Linked DNA regions of Homo sapiens: region 1 is linked to region 2. Evidence: fine-mapped expression QTL. A gene starts in region 2. The other region holds a variant in brackets. All regions are shown on one strand. Distances are from middle to middle. Region 1 overlaps FAM230C (family with sequence similarity 230 member C). Region 2 holds the start of FAM230C (family with sequence similarity 230 member C).

What was found. PIP is the estimated chance that this variant, and not a neighbour inherited with it, causes the effect.
Region 1: its variant is fine-mapped to the expression of FAM230C in testis (GTEx, PIP above 0.99).

What each region holds. Positions count from the first base shown.
Region 1 is chr13:18,220,268-18,225,645 of GRCh38, reverse strand. FAM230C (family with sequence similarity 230 member C) reads right to left here. Exons shown (of 8, transcript NR_027278.1): 4 at 3,065-3,151. Among named protein-coding and RNA genes, the nearest start is that of FAM230C, 28 kb to the right of the region's middle. The variant T/C (reference allele first, on the strand shown) is at 3,214.
Region 2 is chr13:18,193,124-18,198,467 of GRCh38, reverse strand. FAM230C (family with sequence similarity 230 member C) reads right to left here and starts at 3,171. Exons shown (of 8, transcript NR_027278.1): 1 at 3,057-3,171. It also overlaps the pseudogene LOC124903223.

The DNA.
Region 1 (5,378 bases), 27 kb before region 2:
TTATTTATTGCATTTTCAATGTTAATCTACTATTTCATATTTTGAGATTAACTCACATTAGTCAGAATTTACAGTATTTTAAAATATCACAGAATTTAATTTACCTTATCTGGTTTTGGTTTCAAGACTATACTAGCCATTTCATTTAATTGTACATGTAGGGTATTCTAATTTATGGAAAACTATTACATCTTCCTTGATTTTTTTTTTTTTTTAGAAATTACTTCTAGGGATCTATATGGTAGAGTCCATGGAGAATTGTTTTAATTCTACATTCATGTCTTCAGTGGGTATACGATTGGTCATATTGGTCATAGTTTTCTGCTCGGATTTCAATAAGAAACTTGTGGAAGAACCTGAAGGGTGGGATCTTTGAGGGAGCCTAAGACGGAGCAAGACAAGCTAAGAAGGAGGGCAGTGCCACAGCAGAACTGTTATTGATGCCCCCTCACCTAGATTGCAGAAGAGACATCCAGCTGTAGACACTGAGGTGCAGGAAAACAATGGAGCACCATCAGAGAAAGCAGTGCCCAGGAACAAGGAGGCACTGATGGTGGCAAGGGGCAAAGACAGCTACCACGAGGCTGTTCACATGAGGGTCTCAGGCTGCATAGACACCCACACCAGCTGAGGGGTCCTGGTTTTCATAAAGTGTGTGGCTCAGCCAGGCCACCAACAAGAAGTTCACAAACAGTAGTAATACGACACTTTCCAAAGACCTTACTTGAGTAACATGGTGATCCTCACAAATTTCCAATCAGGATGGTCGCACGGTTCCTCCTGCTTTAGGACTCAGAGCCTGCCCATGGTCACAGTGGGTAGGTGCAGACTCTGAAGATGCCCTTTGGTCAGAGACCCCGCTGAACTCTGTCTAATGAGGACCTCTGTCCTGTCTGCTGACCACCGGTCAGAGGTGCAGGCTGCACTGGGGAGTAAGAATGCCACCTTCTCAATGTTGGGAAAACTCCCTGCCAGAACTGAGAATGGCCCTTTCTAAGCAGAAGACAAGCTCAGACTAAAGAAGGAGGCCGACCACATCAGGTTGGCAGATTGCCAAAGATTCACTCAGGGAGAGCCCACATCCTGGGCCATCTTGGGTGGTGGCAAGATGAGGTAGATGACTGCTTTTGCAACACATACCTGACAACAAAAAATCAACAACTGTAAAAGAGCCACAAAATCCCCAAATATTTGCAAATTAGCAATGCAGTTTTAAATAACTCATGGGTTAAAGAAGAAGTCTCAATAGAAAATTAAAAATACTTTTAACTACATTAAAAGAAAATGTGACTTGGCAAGATTTCTGGATGTAGCAAAAGCAGTCCTTAGAGGGAAATCTATAGCATTGGATGTAATATACTAAAAATCACAAGATCTAAAATCAGTAATATCATGTTTCAATTAGGGAACTGTAGAAAATAGAGGAATGCAATGGAAAGCAAGTAAAAGTAATAAACAACATCACAGAAATCAATAAAATTAAAACACTGAAATCATCAGAAAATCAATAAAACCAAAAGCTGGTTCTTTGATATGCTCATTACAATGAATGAATTGATATGCAGGCTAACCAAGAAAAAGAAGATAACACAAATGACCAATTTCAGAAATAAAAGAGGAGCCATCTCTACTGAACTGTTAGGCATTAAAAGGAATATTATGAACAGTTCTATGACCGCAGTTTGATAACCTCAGTGAAATTTATCAATTCCTTGAAAGGCAATCTTCCCAAGGTCACGCTAGAATCCTAATGTGAATAAACTTATGTCTATTAAATAAGTTGAATTCACATTAAGAGCATTCCGAAAAAGAAAGCACCAGGCCCAGATGGTTTCTCTCATGAAATCTACCGAATTCTTCAACAGGCGAATAAAAAGACAAAAATTCATTTAATGCAATATTATTTGGTGATTTAATGTGCCATTTTTTGCCATTAAGGCATAAAAAAGACATGAAAGCAGCTAAAGCGTACATCAATTTAGTGCAATAAATTCATCTGAAAAAACTACATAATATATGATTCCAACTATACGACATTCTGGAAAAGGCAAAGTTGAAGCGATAGTAAAAATGTTAATAGTTGCCATGGTTTCTGGAGAAAGAGGACAGAGATTAATGAGAAGAGAGGATTTTTAGGGAAGTGAACATTTTCTTTATGAGACCATAAGGGTGAACATAATGTTTTAAATATTTCAAAATTCATATATATGTATAACAGAAAGAATGAACATTATGCAAATGTAGACTTTAGATAATAATGTATCAATATTTTCTCATTATTCTAGCAAATGTACCACAGTAATGTAAGATGTTACTAATAGGTGAAATTAGGAAGTGAGGATGAGGAGACAGAATAATATGGGAACTTCGTGTATTATATACTCAATTTTTATTTATTTATTTATTTATTTATTTATTTATTTATTTTGAGATGGAGTTTCACTCTTGTCACCCAGGCTGGAGTGCAATGGCATGATCTTGGCTCACTGCAACCTCTGCCTCCCGGGTTCAAGCGATTCTCCTGCCTCAGCCTCCTGAGTAGCTGGGATTACAGGCGCCTGCCACCATACCGGGCTAATTTTTTTGTATTTTTAGTAGAGATGGGGTTTCACCATGTTGGCCAGGCTGGTCTCCAACTCCTGACCTCAGATGATCCGCCTGCCTTGGCCTCCTAAAGTGCTGGGTTTATAAGCGTGAGCCACCACGCCTGGCCATATGCTCAGTTTTTATGTCAATTTAAAACTCTCTAAAGAAATATATTAATTGAAAAATAATAATATAGCACCACTCTTTCAGGGAGATCTATGCTTATGTTTAACAACCAGGTAAGTTCTAGACATTAGCTTGAAACATTGTCTATCATTAAACATGAACCACAATTGACTTTTAAGTAGATATTTACTTTTGTGGTTGTAGCAATATTTACTGACCAGGCAAATTAGAATCCTGACACATTAAAAAATATGGCTTAGTCTCTTCATAGTTTCCTCTTACATATGGGACACTGAATACTCCCCGCAATTGCAATTCTTGAAGCAACTTAATTAATGAACTTCCACAGTACCTTCTTGTGGGTACATCTTCTTCTTTACCGGGGAGCCATGAGGTCTCCGACACTGGTTGGTGTGCACAGCATATCTTCTTGTATTCTCTATCAGAGAAGATGCTGGTTAACGCATTTACAATAGATAGGGCTGTTGACATCTTGCTGAC[T/C]GAAGACCAGAGGGAAAACAGTGATAATCTGTTCTAAGTTTAAACTTATGATGTTTTTCTTTACAGGCTTCCAAGCAGAGCCCACTGAATCAAAGTTGGGTTTCAGGAAGATCACGGAGTTCAGTGAGCACTCAACACCTCTATCAGACAGACTGTGTGGGCAGTGCCTTCCTGGAGAGGAGAACACAGCAGGATGACTGTGAGTGCAGGGCTGGTGCAGAGTGGGGGCCCGGATTCAAATTCCACTAAGCCATGTGGACCTAGAAATCTCATGTCCTCCCTCTGCCCTCAGTTCTCTGCACTGTCATAATGTAATTTTAGCAATACTTTTTAGGCCCTATTTAGGCCCTACTTCTTAGTATCACAGTACGGGGCTAAAAAATCACTAAATACAGGAAAACCTTAGAGAGGACTGGTACTTCAGTAATGTTCTCTAAGTGTTTACTACATGCCAGGAGGAATAAGCTGGACACTTAGCAGTGGTGGAATATGGAGGGGGAACTTGGATGGCTCCGGGGCAGTGGAGCATGCTTTCCTGTTCAGCTTTTCCGTGGGCATGATGCCTTATGGTTTATGGAGAACATCAGCCCTGCAGGGGGTGCAGAGGAGGGGCTGTGGCTGAGATTTTACACTTGAGGGTGCTGACATTCAGAGATGATAAGTGACGAGCAGAACCTCAACCCCGCTGAGTGAAGGACCTGAGATGGGAAATGTATTTGGTTCCCTAGAGAGAGAGTTTCCTGAAAAACTGCCACCTCTTCATCACGCCCTGTGCCAGAGACCCAAGAGGCCCTTCACTGTCTTTCCCCAGTCCTCCTAGCCCAAGGTGTGTGGGTGGACAAAGGTGATGCTCTGGAGGAAATGCCTGAGATAAGGACAGGTCCTTAATGATAAAGAATTCTCCTTCCTCTTTCAGATCCTTGACTTCCCCAGTATGACAGCTTAAAGGCTGTCATCTCTGTGGCCTGCCTCCCCTTTCCCTTCACCCTGCCAGCTGCCTCTCAGTGACTGTCTCCTCCAGTGACTACACTGAGGGACCAGGGACTGCTTGCCTCCCGAGGCTGCTCAGACCTTCTGACACTGCAAAATGATTGTCAAAAGATGGGTCTGCAAAGAGTAACTTCGCTTCCAATGATCAAACCTGAATATGCAAGCTACTGTGAATTAACTGGAAAAGTGGCCATGTGGGCTGGTGCTTTGGTGATTTAATGAATTAAGTCTGCAACCCCCACTGCCTCCTTGACTATTGATCAGAGCTACCTGCAATAAGGTCTGGCTAAGAATGGGCAGTGGTTGCACCAGCTCTGGGTAAAATTTGACCTAAAATGACCAGTCTCATTCACTAACCTCAACATAGTCTTATGGGTTCAATGGACCTGTCCAATCCTTTGCTCTGTTCTCTCCATCACCTTCCTGTGTAATTTTCCTCCACCACACACATAATAGAAACATGGCACAGGGTAGCTAATCACCTCTTTTATCCCCCACTTCAGGCTCACACATAAGTTTATAGTAAAAGCCTTTTCAAATGACTGCTTTAACTGCTGCTACAGCATGTGTCATCAGTTGAATGGAATCTGTCATGTGACTTTAAGCAACCCTTTGTTGAGAGACAAGATTCAATACTAGGGACAGTATTCTAGTGTACTACATCATTGATTTTATGTTATGAAGATCATCATTTATTGAAAATGTATAAACAAAGCGCAGCCTTACTCTTTAATGCTGTGTGTGTAAATCCACTGAGTGTGCTGACCCCCACGCTTGTACCCACCTGCTAACACAGAAAGGGTCCACTCAGAAGGGAGGCACAGCTCCAGCACTGAGGCTGTCCACACCAGCTTCACAAGAGGGTTGCCACAAGGACGACAGATACCCGGATAACAACCAAATGGTAATTTGAGTACTTAATGGTCATGATCCCTAATGTGTGTAGCTCAGAGGGCTTGTGGTGATAACTCCATCAAGACTCTAAAGCGTCTCCCCAATTCTTACTGGACTTGATCCATGTCTTGAGGAGACCCAGCTATGACACGCAGGCACCACGTTGTCCTACTTAGTGCCTCCCTTAGTGTTTCAGAACCTGTGATTTGATCAGAAACATGGGCTTTCTATGTTGGTTTCACACAAAGGACTATGTGACACCTGCAGGAAGGTGTCTACAT
Region 2 (5,344 bases):
AAAATATATTTAGTGTACTAAATAATACAAAAAGTGTGGTACTAAATAATACAGAAATAATTCACAAAACTTGCAACCATAAAGCTCTTATAAACACAACCTCGAGTGTATGTATATTTAGGGAAACTTGGATGTATGCTCACGGTTTGCAAAAAGTAACAAAAATACAAGGGAAAAATCACTGACAATGGACTGCTTTGGCAGTGATTTTGTTTTTTCTTGATTAGTAAACAATAGCACACTAACCAAGAAATTACATGTGGGACCGCATCAAACTGAAGAATTTGTGCCCAAAAAAGGAAAGAAACAACGAACAAAATGAAAAGGCATACTAAAACTTATAAGAAAAGTTTGGGCAAACATACAGTGGATAACAGGTTACTTTTGAAAAGGCACAAGCCAGTAACACTAACGGCTGGCAAAAAAACAAAACAACAGAGAAATAACCAGACCAAAATTGGGCAAATAACCTGAGTAGATATTTGTGCAAAGAAGACAGAAAACAGATTCAACATTTATAAAAACGTGGTTAACATTACTACTCATGAGAAAAATGTAGATCAAAACCACTCTCAGATCTTATCTCACTCCAACTAGAATGAACATCACAAAAAGATTAAAATATTTAAAAATAAAATTCCTGGTATGAATTTCCAGAAAGGGGGACTGTTTGTGGAAATGTAAATTGGTATTAACACTATAAAAAACAGTTGGGGGTCCTGCAAACAATAGAAAAAAAAAAAGGAAATACCATACCATCTAGCAGTCCCACTACTGGCTATATATTCAACCTACCTGTTCACCCACAGATAAAGAGATCAAGAAACTCTCATATACATACACTGGGGAATATTCTTCGGCTATCAGAATAATCAAACAGTGTCATTTAGAGCAACCCAGATGAACCTGGAAAACATTATGATAAATGTGATGAGCTAGGCCTAGAAAGACAAACACTGCATGATACCACTCATGTGAAATCTTAAGATGTTTATCTTAAAGAAGTAGAAAGCACAATATTGGTTACCAGAGTCTGGGAGACAGAAGGGGAATGGAGAAGGATTGGTTATGGAAACAAAGTTATCTTAACATTAAAAGAATAAATCTGAGTGTTCTCCTCAGCCTGGTGACTGGACTTAACCGTATTACATTTTTCTAAAGAGCAAGGAGAATTTTGAATGTTCTCTTTACACAAAAATAATACCTGTATGAGGGAATAGAGATCCTAAGTACCCTGATTTGATCATTACCCAATTTATATGTATAAAAATGTACCCCTAATTATGGCCCTTTATGTTGTAAAAAAATTAACAGAAATAAATACATAGTGCTAAAAATCACAGGGAACCACAAAAGCAATGAATATCTAAAGGAATCCTGAGAAATACAATCAAAGTGAGAACCCACAATCCTTGATATCAAATTAAATTGCCAAGTTGTAGTTATGCAGTAGATATATGGTACTTGCATAAAAAGAAATACCTAGAACTATGGACAAAAACAGGGAGGACAAAAACAACACAAATATGGACACAGTCAACTGACTTTGATAAAGAACACCACAATGTGGAAGGCAGAGTCTGATCAATGAATAGCTTTGAGAAAAATGATATCCGGATGCAAAAGCGAGAAACAGGACCCTTATTTTACACGATGTATGAAAATCAACCGCCCCCCCCATCAACTGAAGGCCAAAACAAAATACCATAAACCACAAAATGTTTTTTAAAAAATTACTGTGTTTACTTAAGTAAAACACAGGTTGAGCATATATTTTGGGTCACTTGAATCTCTGTTAACCTTTGCAAAGAGGAAAAGAAACAAACACCCTGGAAGAAAAACCTCACTGACAATTAAATGCTTTGTTACTGATGCATATTTTCTAATATGGGTGACCATTATGACACGCATAAAACGCAAAAAAAAAAAAAATATGGGACTACATCAACGTGAAAAGTTTCTGCATGGCAAAGAAAACTACTTTCCAAATAAAAAAGCATCCCATAGATTATGCAAAAATTTCAGGCAATCATGTAATTCACGAGGAGTTGTCAACTAACGTGTACACAAAAAAGAGTACAAAGTAGAAAAAGAATCCAATCTAATATTTCGCAAATAACCTAAAGAGACAATTCTGCACAGATATAAAATCGAACAACAGATAAGAGATAAGGTCCTCGAAATTAACTATTCATTAGAATACTGTAATTCAAAACCACACGCAGATAGTCTCACACTTATTGAATATTCCTAGAAAAATTTTTTAAAAATAGGAGGGTCTGGGAGCCGTGGCTCACGTCTGTAATCCCAGCACTTTGGGAAGCCAAGGCGGGTGGATCACCTGAGGTCACGAGTTTCAGACCAGCCTGACAAATATCGTGAAACCCCGTCTCTACTAAACATAAAAATACAAAAATTAGCCGGGCGTGGTGGCGGGCGCCTGTAGTCCCAGCTACACAGGAGGCTGAGACAGGAGAATTGCTTGAAACCGGGAGGTGGAGGTTGCAGTGAGCCGAGATGGCGCCACTGCCCTCCAGCCTTGGAGACAGAGCGAGACTCCGTCTCGAAATAACAAAAACAAAAAAAATTGGAATGGGGGTTTGGTTTTGGAGAAACGGGAACTCATACACTGTAGGTGGAAATGAAAATTAGGGTACACACCATGGAAAACAGTTAAATAGCTGGAAACTCCTCAAAGAATTGAAACTACAGATGTCCCCTGCTCTAGCGAGGTCTCTTTCTAAAGGTCCTGAGGCATAAAAAATAACCCTAGACCCCAGCTCAGAGGCCCGTGGGGCTCGGAGGGACCCAGTCCAGCGCTTCACCGCCGGCTCTGGGCCAGGGCGCTCCTATAGGCTGGACGTGGGTCGGACCGGGGCATAGCCTTCCCGGCGGGGGTGTGGACGCTGCAGAGGCCAGGATCCCACAACCGCCCCAACGCTGACGACTCGGGCCCAGATGCCCACTTAGAAGTCAGGGCCCGAAAGCAGGGAGCGGCCGGGAAGGAGTAGGGAGACCCAGAGGGTTCCAGGTGGGGTTCATCCCCCTCCACTTACCGCCGAGGCCTGCCACCTCCTCCACCAACAAACGGAAGCCACCACATCTTCTCCGAGACTCGCTCTGACCACGCCGCCGATGCTGCCCGGGCCTCGCACGAAGCGCAGTCTCGGCTTCCCTCGGGGCCTGCATGCTGGCAGCGTCCCTGGCGCCAGGCTGAAGCACCACCCCCTCTTAAAGGGGCCGCGGCTGGGACTGGGCAGAAGCAGCTTCGGGTTGCACAGGCTGAGCGTCTGCCCAGCCCCAGGGGTGGAAGAAAGGCCCCCAGTCTGTCATCCTCCCGGGCTCTAGGGCCCTAGAGGTCGCAGAAGCCCCTCCTGTGACCCCAGCCCCTAAATCGGCTCCCTTTGCCTGAGGAGCGCCCGGGACCTGCCCCTGCCCTCCTCGGGACCTCAGCTTCACCATCCTCAAAGAAAGCGGCCTGGCTGGAGCTCTGGGGTCCCTCAAGCTCGGCGCCTCAGGATCCAGGGTGGGCTCCCCTGCCCCTCTGCAGAGGGGGCCCAATAGCCACGGAAAGCTGGGGGCTGGAGGGACAGTCCCGAGGGCAGCAGGGCGTCCTTGGCCTCACCGTCTACATTCGTCCTGTGGGAGCCCGGGGGCGTCGCTAGGGCCCAGACTCCTGCGGCCTCACCAGGGCTGCCTGGGTCACCGGGCTCCCCAGGAGGCAGGGAGGGACCCTGGGGTCCAGCGCTGCCCCCACCTCAACTCCATTCTGCGTCAGCATCCGCGAGGGGATCCTGTGGACTGGACCCAGACCCACTCCTTCCCGGGGAGCGGGACCCGCATCGGTCTCTGTGACACCCACGGGAGGGGCCGTGCTGACCTCTCCCGGGGATCTGGGGGCGAGGTGGGGGAATCTCGGCCACCTCTTGAAGCTCGCTGAGCCCCCCACCCCAGAGAGCGCTCAGGAGCAAAGGAAAGGACGGAGAGCCCACACATTTTCTATCTTTCATTTCCGTTTTTTCTTTTTTCCCCCCTCCAAAATGAAAGACGTGTGTAGCTTTGTCCCCTGTACACCATCCATTCCCCATGGCCGCTGTGCGGATCCAGCCCGCTGGTTGCCTCTAGGGTCCTGGGCGCCCGGCGGTCCGCATGCAGCCCGGGGCCTGCCCAGGTGAGGTCTGCGGCCGCCACAGCGCTGAGGTCCCGCCTGGCCGGGGCGCACGGGCCGCTGGGGATGCTGGCTGCGAGGCTCCGGGGAGGTGGAGCGGGAGGTTGTCCCAGGCCCTGGCTGCAGAGCTCTTGATGTCACGCCTGACACCCTCCATCCACCGCCTCGGGGCAGCGCTTCAGAGCCCCGGCAGAGGCAAGAAGTCGATCACTTTGTTCTTCATTCGTTGGAAAAATGGAAAAGCACATTATAATCCCTGGAACAACCACTTCAGAGAAAGAGCAAAAAATTAAAATAGGATTGTAAATGACACACTGAAATAAGTTGATTTTAAAAATGGTAGTCAATGGAAAAACAGGATCAGAAGACAGGAGAGACAGGGAAAACAAATAAGTTATCTGACTGAAACAGAATTAGAAACTAACAACAGTAAGAAATATTGGACATCTGAAAATATGTGAAAATTTAACAACCCACCTCTAAATCATTGGATCAAAAAAAATCACAAGATAAATTGGAAAATATTTTGAGCTGCACTCCAGTTTGGGTAACAGACTGAGACCTTGTTTCTAAGAAAACAAAACAAACTTCAAAAAGCTATAAAATTAAATGCCAATTTTCCCCCTTACCCAAACTCTCCGTGGCTCTCCTTTGCCCTCAGAGTCAAGCCCATGCTTCTCACTGTGGGCTCCAGGACCTAGGTGGCCTGACCAGTGCACACCCTATCACGATCTCCTCCTCTGCCCACTTGCTCACGCTGTCCAGTCACACACACTATTTTTGCAAATGCCAAGCTCCTGATCACCGCTGGGCCTTTGCCACTGCAGTTCCGCCTGCCAGGACCAGTCTTTCCCTAGACCTTCCCATTCCTGCCTCTTCCTGGCTTGGCTGCCTCTTTCTGGTGCTTCAGGTCTCAGATCAAATGTCACCTCTTCAGAGAGGACTTCATTGAAATCTCTGCCTAACACAGCCCGTATCAAGGTCAACACTTTTCTTTTTAGACTTAGGTTTTGATATAAAGAAGTTTCATAAAAATGACTTGGGCAGCTATCATCTGTTTAAAAGGTCTGACTTTGCTGAAATAATGTGGGCTTTCCTGTTCTTTGAGTTTTGATAAAACAACTGTAAAACCATCTGCCTTTTTAAAAAAAATTGAGATTGATGTATACTTTCTGT